2 separate regions of the Homo sapiens genome follow, and region 2 is linked to region 1. Evidence: fine-mapped expression QTL. A gene starts in region 1. The other region holds a variant in brackets. All regions are shown on one strand. Distances are between the middles of the regions. Region 1 holds the start of LYPD1 (LY6/PLAUR domain containing 1). Region 2 overlaps GPR39 (G protein-coupled receptor 39).

Evidence for each region.
Region 2: its variant is fine-mapped to the expression of LYPD1 in whole blood (TOPMed, PIP above 0.99).

What each region holds. Positions count from the first base shown.
Region 1 is chr2:132,667,618-132,672,617 of GRCh38, forward strand. It overlaps LYPD1 (LY6/PLAUR domain containing 1), which reads right to left and starts at 2,588. Exons shown (of 3, transcript NM_144586.7): 1 at 2,264-2,588; 2 at 783-920. The coding sequence starts at 2,315. NCKAP5 (NCK associated protein 5) reads right to left here. Exons shown (of 20, transcript NM_207363.3): 20 at 4,171-5,000. RefSeq lists an enhancer at 1,451-2,414.
Region 2 is chr2:132,621,632-132,627,149 of GRCh38, forward strand. All of the region lies in intron 1 of GPR39 (G protein-coupled receptor 39), which reads left to right. Among named protein-coding and RNA genes, the nearest start is that of LYPD1, 46 kb to the right of the region's middle. The variant G/A (reference allele first, on the strand shown) is at 1,968.

The DNA of each region.
Region 1 (5,000 bases):
TTTGACCTTGAAACTGAAGTAACAGCTCTACCTATTCTCCCAAAGTTCCAGATATACTTTGGGGAACTTTGACTTCTGATAAGACAGCTGGGGTAGGGGGTGAGGAGAGGGTTGGAAAGTTCTACCTCAGTGAGAAGATTCTTGGTCAACTAGAGGGAGTGAGGGCTATCCCACAAGACCTCCCCTTCCCCCACAGGATGCTCAGGACTTCTTCTCAGCTAGCCAGCAGCTAAGCTGGTAGGGCTGAGAACGGCATTCCTTTGAAAGATCTTGGCAATTTGTGCCTGGAAGTTGATGCATTAGTTCTAAAATTAAACAAAGATCCTGTAGTGTTCTTCAAGGAAATATGGTGTGCCTCTATGACAAAACACATTTTTCAAGCTCTGACCTCTGGGAGCTTCAACTAGCTCCATATTTCAGGCTGACAATGCTCACAGGCTACTGTCTAGTTGCCCAAGCCAGGGCTGGTTAGCCATATATTTTCTACCTCCATCAGCTTTTAGCATAGGGAGGTGAAGGGAGTAAATAAAAAGAGGAGAGCCACTAATTTACATGCACTTCCCCTCCCAAGACCCTTGGGGAGAAGCCTTGGTAATTAACTCTAATGAGATTAAAGTAACTTGGAACTCTTCATTTTCCCAGCACTGTAAAACTAAATCTGCGATAACCAGTGTGTGGGCATTAAATCAAAGTCAGTCCTTTTTCCTGCTATTTAATGGCCCCCTCACTCCCACCCCACAGCCCAGGCTTAAGAGCGAGGGGGAGGGCTGCCAGGCTCTTACCGGCACTTTGCTCCATCACTTCTTTCTGACACATGTCTTGAACGTTCACCGTGCAATTCACAATGAACTCGGGGGAGGAGCAGTCGTTGTTCAGCTGGAATTCTTCACACTGGTAGCACTGGATTTGCAGCGCAAAGCCTGCGAGACAGACGCAGTCGGGTTCAGATCCGGCCCCCACAGAGCCCACCCCGGAAATCACGACCATCCCACGCCTCAGAGCCAGGCGGCTCCCAGCCTCTGGCAGGCTTAGACCACTCCTGGGTCTCCGGGTAGGGCTGGATGTGGCTGACACCGGCAGGGGGCGGCGCGGGTACCTAGGGTCCTACGGAAGAAAGTGGAATAGTGCCCGCCACCCCTGGACCCCGGCTCTAGACACAAAGCGCCCATCCATTACCACCCCAGGCCTTTTCCCAAGAAGTTGAAGGGAGGGTGGGGACGGTACCACCGCAAGAGTGAAGTAGCTCTGGAGATGTGCGTTAGCTCCAGCCTAAGCCAAAGGATTTGCCTAATTGCTAATTGGTTACAAATTACTTAATTACTATTTTGGCACCATTCGTGATTACATTCGCAGACGTCTTTTTAGTTTTTATTTATTTAATTTTTAAAGTCAGCGTTTCTGTGCCAGGGCTCTGAGGATCCCTGAGCGACCACCTGGGAACAACTTGGGTGGAGGTGCCAGACGCCAAGCGCTGCTGCGCCGCAAGTCCCCGAGCCCGGGTCGGCGGCCCTTCTCCGGGGCCGTCCCCGCGGCGACCCGAATGGCCACAGAGGGTGGGAAAGGGCGTTTGTGAGCGCGCGCACCCTGGATCCCCGACCCCGCAGCCCTTTCTTCCAGGCCCCGGCTTTCAGGACAACCGTTCGACTAGGGTCAGTGGTCGGGGTTCCAGCTCTGCAGAGCTTAGTCGGGAGCCAGTAGGCGAACTGGAGAGAGGACGCGAGACCTTTGCGCCTCTGGACGCTTCGGCCTGGCTGTTCTCGGTGTACGCGCTCCTGTCTAGACCCAACTACCCACGCTCCCGCAGCCCCACATCTATCGCACTCTGAGCGCAGCAACCCAGCTTCAGCGTGGCCGCAGGCTGCCTCGCGCATCGCTCACCTGTCGGCGGCGCCACTCCCACGGGGTGCCGGAGGCGCCAGACAACTTGGCAGGGTTCGGGAGATGTCGCCCCCTCTCCCTCGCCCAGAACCCAGCACCGCTCGGACCCTCCCTCCTCTCAAGCCCAGCTTCTCCCGACGGTGCAGCCGGACAAGCTGCAGCCCGGAGTCCCGCAAACCCGCCGCTCCCCGCTCTCCTCCTGCAGCGCGGGACTTGGACACTTTCCCAGCCTCGCGCCCCGGGGCACCAGTCGCGGCCGCCAACTCCCGCTGGGCAGCCCCAGCGCAGGGCTGGCCCCGAGGTGGGCGCCTTGGGGGCAAAAGGGCTGGCGGGTAGATGGATTGTGCGCACCTGGCCTCGGCTGCTGGCCTCTGGGTATTCTCACCTGGAAGCAAGAACAATCCGCAAAAAGTTGCCGCGATGCCTAGGACCCACATTCTCCCGGAGTCCCGGGGCCGGGAGAGGGCAAGCGCATCAGAGGAGGCGACAGCAGCGGAGGCTGCCCCGGCTGCAGCGGCTGTGGCTGCCGAGGCTGCTGGGGCCCGCGCTGCTGCCGCGGAGACGACGGTCGTAGCTTAGAGGAGCCGCAGGTGCCGCTCGCGGAGCCTGCATCGCCCGCGCTCGGGCTCCCGGCTGCGGGTCTCTGCTCCTCCCGCTCGCGCTCCCGGGCCGAGCACCGCGCCTCCGGAGTTGGCGGCTGAGACTGAAGGAACTACTGGCGATCGGGAGCACCCACAAAAGTCTCGCCTTTTCTCCCCACCTCCCACTCCAGGCATCACGTGACGGCTGCCGAGTTGGGGTGGGGGTGGCGGGCGGGGAAGGCTGGGACGGTCGCTTCACATCCCCACCCCCTTCCTGTCTTCCTCTTCTCCCGCCTCCGCACGTTCCTGGGAAAGGGGCGCCGGGGGGCGGGAGAGAACTGGTAGTTTTCTGAGATGGGGAGGTTGGGGGAGCGGCGAGGAGGGCGCAGCAGGTGCCGTGGGGACCTGCCGGGTGCGGACTAGGGTCTGAGGACTGCGTGCCCGGCTGGCCCTTCGCACATAGGAAGGCAGCCTCCCCACTCCACGTCCTCTGCGCCTTCCAGGACTGGTCGGTACCCCAGCGACTGGGTCCAGCCCACACAACTGAGGCTGTCCCGCTGCGGGCCGCGGGAGCCTGGCGCCCCGGGAGGCTGACAGGAAGGGCGCGCGTTCCCGTGCGCCTGGCAAAGTTCCACGCCCGCAGGCTCCGTAGGGTGTCCTGTGCAGCTGTGCCCCCTCTTCCTCCGCGAAGGCCTTCTGTCAAGAACCAGCTCGGCGTGGCCAATCTGGGTGGGGGTGTGGTGGGGACACTGCCTTAACTGTCTCACTTGCCCGGGCCGCCCTCCCTTCTCCCGCCTGCGCGCACCGCTGGAGGGTGCATTGACACCGCCCTGGTCGCCTAGCCTAGGAGAACGCCGTCCCGGGGACACCTGCCGTGAGGTCCTACCAGAAAGCAAATCAGGGTGAGGAAGAGGGTTGTTCTCCTCCATTCCTTGTCTCCCAAACGCCAGCCGGCTCCATTCTGCTTTCCCCAAAGCCACCGATTATTAGCACATACTCCCACGTCCTCTCCTGAAAGGCCATCCCAGCCTCGGACTCGGCCTCTGGCTGCTCCCCACACCCCTCAAATTCGTCTTCTTTCCGCAAAGTCCAAGTGACCCACCTTGCGGACTCCCGGGGATGCCCCGGTGCTATCTTCGCCTTCCTTCCCGAGCCTTGCAGCAGGTGGTGCGGGAGACCGCTTGCCCGCCGGAGTGCGTTGGTGCCCCCGCCCCCAATCCGCACATTCCCATCCCCTTTCCGCACATCCTTAGGGAGCATCCATTTCCGTGGAAATCGCCTCCTAAGCTTTAGCTCCTCTTCACCCTTTTCTCCCCCGGCCACTTCTGGGGGCAGCTCTCTCACGCCGGGACGCTGATCATTTATTTCTGCATCCTCCCAGCAGAGCTGGTCTGTAAAGGGGCTTAAATGACTTTCTTTGTAATTCCTCTGCAGAGATCGTTCCATATCTGCCTCAGGCTCCTTCTCTCCCTCCCTCCCTCCCTCTCCCCCTTCTTTCATTTCTATTTGGTTAACCCCTCGGGGAGACTGAAATGCTTTGACCATTACTCACCTGTCTGCAGACTCTGATCTTACAATTGGCTAAATTACTATCTCTGGAGCAAAAGGGCCAATTTATTTATTCCTTCTGGGAACCCATTGTAAGAGCACGTGTGAGTCATGATTCAAGTAACTGACTGGGCCAAAAGGTCCTTGAGCAAGTTATTTTCTGTTTTCAGAGGGTGCAAATGTGATATAACTTTTATTCAGAAAGGAAACAAAAAGATTTTTTAAAGTCTGAAAGACAAGGACATTTTACATAATTTTCATTTAAGATAAAATAAAACAAATTGCACAAATTAACCAAATAACACTGATCATACAATACTCTTTAAAGAAACAATTATGTGCTAAAGTAGCCATATAGATCCTAAAAATATTTCTATTGGGCCTAGTTTACAAGCTCCTGTACATAAGTAATTATAAATAGTTCACATCTAGAAAAAATACACATAACCTTTAAAATAGAATTTATCCTTACATATAAACAGTCTTTGTAGAAAAAAAAGGATATTAAAAAGAATTCTTCGTAGCACCATTAATTTTATTTTTAAAAGTGAACATTGCAAATAGAAATTTGTTTTCATTTTTAGAGTGCCCAGATTTTAATAAAAAGAGCAAGAAGATAAAAATCAAATAATATTCAGGATCATAGAGAAGCACTAAGTAAAAGACAATCTAAAGAAATGTCTGGAAGGAAAAACTGGTATTGGGAATAGAATTCGGTCATTTCTGATACAATGTCACACTCCCAATCAGTGTCCACACTTCAGGACCCTTTTCATTTTTCAGCAGAAGCAGAATGACACTTATTACTATCACCTGAATCTCTGGCAACGAATCTGAAATTACACTAAAATGAACATTTCCATCAAATTGAGATTTGTGAGATGGAGATGAGGAGGAACCCTCCGATTTTTTGGCAGGCCCTGTTGTAGGTTTACAGAGTGTACCCACAAACAATTTGAGGACCAGGACAACGAACTTCACAAAAACTTCAGT
Region 2 (5,518 bases), 46 kb before region 1:
AGGGACAGCTGGGGTGCCACAGAAGGTTTGAGTATGGTGGAACCAGAGAGATTCCAGCTCAGACCCTGTCTCCAGCCCAGCCAGCTGGTGTCTTTGGACAAGCCTGTTTCCCAGCTGTTAAGTGGGTTCAGTGATGTCCATCTTCCAAGGTTATTGCAGGGCGTGAATTTATAAAACCCCAAGCTGGGCCTTGGGCAATGCAATACATTGCAGCCTTCTGGTTCCTTCGTCCTAAGTAAGAAGGCATCTTCTCTATTTCCAGCAGCTTCCATAGGGTGCTGGGGTGTGGGGCATTAGAGAGGTCCTGTCACAAATCTCAGGCTGGCGATGAGAGGGATATGCATAGAGATGGCCACCTGTCCACCTAACTCTGCTCATGCTCTCCTGCCCCAGAGGGTACTCCTGCTGAGGTGAGGGGTCCCCTGGGCTGGGGAGAGACCTTTGAGAAGGACGATGGAAAAATAAAAGTCTGCCAGAATTGGCAGGGTGCAGTGGCTTATGCCTGTAGTACCAGCATTTTGGGAGGCTGAGGTGGGTGGATCACTTGAAGTCAGGAGTTCGAGACCAGCCAGGCCAAAATGGTGACACCCTGTCTCTCCTACAAATACAAAATTTAGCCAGGTGTGGTGGCGCACACCTATAATCCCACCTACTGTGGAGGCTGAGGCACGAGAATTTCTTGAAACTGGGAGGCGGAGGTTGCAGTGAGCTGAGATCGCACCATTGCACTCCAGCCTGGGCGACAGAGTGAGACTCCCTCTCAAAAACAAAACAAAACAAAAATCTACCAAAATATCTAAGGTTTATTCTGAGCCAATATGAGTGACCATGGACCAGGGAAACAGTCTCAGGAAATCCTTAGAAAGTGCACTTGAGGCAGTTGGGTTACAGTTTGGCTTTATATATTTCATGGAGTCAGAAATTGCAGGTAAAGCCATAAATCAATACCTGGAAGGTATATATTGATTCAGCCTGAAAAAGCTGGATACCGCGAAGCAGAAGCTTACAAGTCATAGGTAGGTTTAGGGATTCTTTTTGTGGCAATTGATTGAAAGACTTAAGCTTTGTCTAAAAATTTGGAGTTGATAGAAAGGAATACTTAAGTTAAAATAAGGGGGTCTGCCACCCATCATGTGATGCCATACCAGAAGAAGGTTGAAAAGTGAGCCACATTGTAGTAGATCAAAAAATAAGACCTGTTGGCCAGGTGCGGTGGCTCATGCCTGTAATCCCAGCACTTTGCAGACCGAGGTGGGAGGATCACAAGGTCAGGAGTTCAAGAGCAGCCTAACCAACCTGGTGAAACCCTGTCTGTACTAAAAATACACAAAGTAGCCGGGTGTGGTGGCGGGTGCCTGTAATCCCAGCTACTCAGGAGGCTGAGGCAGGAGAAACACTTGAACTCGGGAGGCAGAGGTTGCAGTGAGCTAAGATCATGCCATTGCACTCCAGCCTGGGTGACAAAGCGAGACTCTGTCTCAAATAAATAAATAAGACCTATTTAATGAGATTTTATGGTTTGTAAGGCATGACTCCCCAGGCCCCTTCAAAAGGAAAAAAAAAGTCAGAGCTCAGTCCTCAAGAAGCTTGCCCAAGCCCCAGAGAGGCAGTGGAGCCCCTGGGATGGACGAGGGAAGCCCAGCACAGAGTTTCATTGACTTGCCTAAAGCCACACAGCTGGGAAAACCCAGTGCCCTGGACTCCACGCTCCTGATACCGTTGAAGGAAGATCTGAAAAAGAAGGGCTGTGGCCAGGGGCGCCTGAAGGGAAGGAGAGAGGGACAGTAAAGAAGAGTAAGAAAAGAATGGAGGGAGAAGGAAGACTGGGACAGTCTGGTGCCACCTCAAAAGTCAGGAATAAAGTTAAAGCTTATAAAAGAAGTTAAACTATTCCCTTTATCCCTTTTCCTCGCCCTGCCCTTCAAAAAGCGAAGGCAAAAATGACTCAGCATTCAGAGCCCCAGTCC[G/A]GAAACCTGGCTCCTCACTAACTAGCTGTGTGGCTTTGGCCAGTTTCCTAACTTCTCTTGATGTTTCTTTCCTCATTTACAAAATGAGAAGGCTGGGTAAGATGATCTCTGTTGTCTCTTCTAGCTGGAAACATTTCTGTGATGATTAAAGCAAAAATCCTGGAACCCCTTCTGCTGTGATTGCTTTGAGGTGGAGAAGCCCGCACAATTGCCTTGGGAAGGTGGCTCACTCCTTTTTAGTTCAGCCAAGGAAGATTTTGGAATGATGGGAAAGCCAGAAGCAGCCTGGAGCTGATGCTCCAGGGTAGAGGAGCAGCCCACTCCCTTGACCACCCCCTCACCTCCACCAGCAGCCCAAGATCCTTCTGCCTCCCTGGAAATGGCTTAATTTACATCACAGTAACCTGCTTAAAAGGAAGCCAGGGATAACCTGGGTGACAACATGAGTTTGCTAGGGGCTACCATGATAAAATAACGTGGGTTCGGTGGCATAAACAACAGACATATATTGTCTCACAATTCCGGAGGCTAAAAGTCTAAGATCAAGGTGTCGGTAGGGTTGGCTCTTGGGGCTTCTCTCCTTGGCTCACAGATGGCCCTCTTCTCCCTGTGTCTTTCTGTGGTTGTCCCTCTTGTCTGTGCATGTCTGTGTCCAAATTTCCTCTTCCTGTAAGGACACAAGTCATATTAGATTGGGGCTCATTGTAATGACCCCATTTTACTGTAATTGCCTCGTTAAGACCCTATCTCCAAATACAGTAACAATTAGATGTAGCAGTGGTTAGAGATGCAACATATGATCTTCATGATAGTGACCATGACATTTATTATCAATGCTGGAATAATTCGAAAGAAATATTTTTGAACTTTTTATTAAAGTTTACAACATACATACTGAAAAGTGCACACATTAGATGTTTATAGCTTGAACATACTCACATAACCAGATGACTAGTACTCCTGAAATTTCTGCTTTGTGTCCTCTTGTACTTATTCCCTCTCAGGTAACCATCATTCTGACTTCTAACACCATACCTTAGCTTCTCTTGTTTTTGTAGTTTCTCTACAAAATCAAACAAAATGTAATCTTCCGCATCTGCCTTCTTCAGTGGACATATGTTTGTGAGATTTGCTCATGTTCTAGGGTGCAGCTTTAGCCTGCTGATCCTCACTGCTGTGTGCAGTGTATAGTATGTCGTTGCGTGAATATTCCACAGTTAGTCTGTGTTTTCTACCATTGATGAGCTTTTGTGTAGTTCCCAGTCGGGGATCAATATAGACCTGAAGATCCTAGTGCATGTCTTTAGGTGGACATATTTTACCCTTTTCTCTTTGCATATACTTAGAAGCAAATTTCTGGGTCATAGGTTCTGCACATGAACAGCTCTACTAGAGACTGTCAAACACTTTTCCAGAGTAGTTGCACCAATTTACAACCCACGCTGGCAGTGTACGGGAGTTCTAGGTGCTCCAATTTTTTTTTTTTTTTTGCTTCTACATGGCTTTTTTACTTCTACATGGCTTTTTGCTTTGCTTCTACGTGGCTTTTTCCCCTCTACCTTTCTTAATTTGGCCATTCTGTTGAGTACATGGCGACGTCTTGCTGTGGTGTTAATTTGCAGTTATGTGATGACTCCTGATGAGGGACATCCTGGCATTTGTTGACTGGCCACTTGGCTGGCCTCCTTCCTCTGTGAAGTGCCTTTTCAAGTCTTCTGCCCATTTTCTCTATTGGATTATTTATCTTTTTTTCTTGTTGTTTTGTAGGAATACTTTATATATTCTCCATGAGTTTTCTGCTGATTGTAGGACAATTTTTGGAGTCAAAGTGGGGAGTTGTGGATAATAAGCTGTAATAAGTGCCATAAACCAGCACCACTAGACAGATTGGCAAACTTGACTTCTCGGCACATAGTGCATTCCAGTTTTACGAAGATTTAAAGAGACAAATTTGGAAGCACCAATGGCTCATATGAGAACAGAAGGGGGGGAAATGCCATGTTTTCAGTATACAGCTTTATAGGGCTTTCAGTTCCTTCTCTTCCTACATCTTTTTGAAGATGTTCACCTTCAGAGTCCAACATTGGAATGAGTTTTTATTCCTCTGTGCTGCTGATTCAGCACTCTGTTTTCTATATGTCTGTGATCATCTGCCTTAGCTTCATTAACCTTCTGACATTTTATGATTCTCTTAGTCCAACCCCCCAATTTTATTAATAAAGAAACAAGCCTGGCTGGGTGCAGTGGCTCACCAGCTCTTTGGGAGGCCAAGGCGGGTGGATCACAAGGTTGGGAGATCGAGACCATCCTGGCTAACACGGTGAAACCCTGTCTCTAGTAAAAATACAAAAATTATCTGGGCGTGGTGGTGGGTGCCTATAGTCCCAGCTACTCGGGAGGCTGAGGCAGGAGAATGGCGTGAACCTGGGTGGCGGAGGTTGCAGTGAGCCGAGACCGCACCACTGCACTCCAGCCTGGGCGACAGAGCGAGACTCCATCTCAAAAAAAAAAAACAAAAAACTAAAAAAGTAGCCTAAAATGGTTAAATGACATCCCCCAAGGTGACACTGCTGGTTAGTACAGAGCTGGGACTAGAATCCAAGGCTACTGTGCTTTTCTCCAAAGGCATCTTCACAAGTCTTTAGTATTTAAATCAACCCATAAGTACCTTTGACCATGTACAGGGTCATTGGAGGCATTGGTGTCAGCTGGAATATTGGGGTTGGAGGGCAGGCCCTGGCCTGGAAGCTGGAGGACTTGGCTGCTGATGATAGTGGCTCAGCGAGCAGCCTCTGCTTTCACATTGGCGAGATAATAAGGCTGCACTACAGTGTCCTCTGACAGCCCTTCCATCCCTGAGTTCTACATCCAAAAATGTCTCCCCTGAGGGAAGAGAAAGGAGAGCTGGTTTTTTCTTTTTTTAAACAAGAACCAAGTAAATAAGTATGGATTTCCTTTGAAAGGAAATGATTGGGTTTCTCTAGTCAATAAAGAGAAAGGAGAGAAATAGGGCTTCAAATAAGTAAACTCCTTTGTGATGTGAGTGGTATTGAATAGTCTCTCAGTTCAAATGGGCAAAAGGAAATGTCTGTTTATGGTTGGAGGCCTCCAGGTTATCCCTGAGAGACTAAGTGATGTTACCTTAGGAGGCTGAACAACCTCCCCGCAGGCCACTACATTAAAGACATTTATATAATTGAGACTCTTATGGTTGGAAGTAAGTGAAAACCATATTCACATTGGCTTAAGAAAAAAGAATGTATTAGCTTATATAATTGAAAAGCCTATAGGTAGATCCTATTTTAGGATTGTAGGATCCAGGCTCAAACAATATTAGAAATAATTCTTTCTCCTTCTCACAATGTTATGTCTTTGCCTTCCTGTGCATTGGCAAAGGAGAGCTTTTCAGGGAAGCCGCCCCAGTGTTGGGGATGTCATGGCCACAGAGTTACAGGCTTGTTTTCCTGGTTTAGCAACTCCAGCAGAATATTTTTTTTTTTCCAGCAGATGTCCTGAGGTTGCCTCTTACGGGCCTGATCTGGATCCCATGT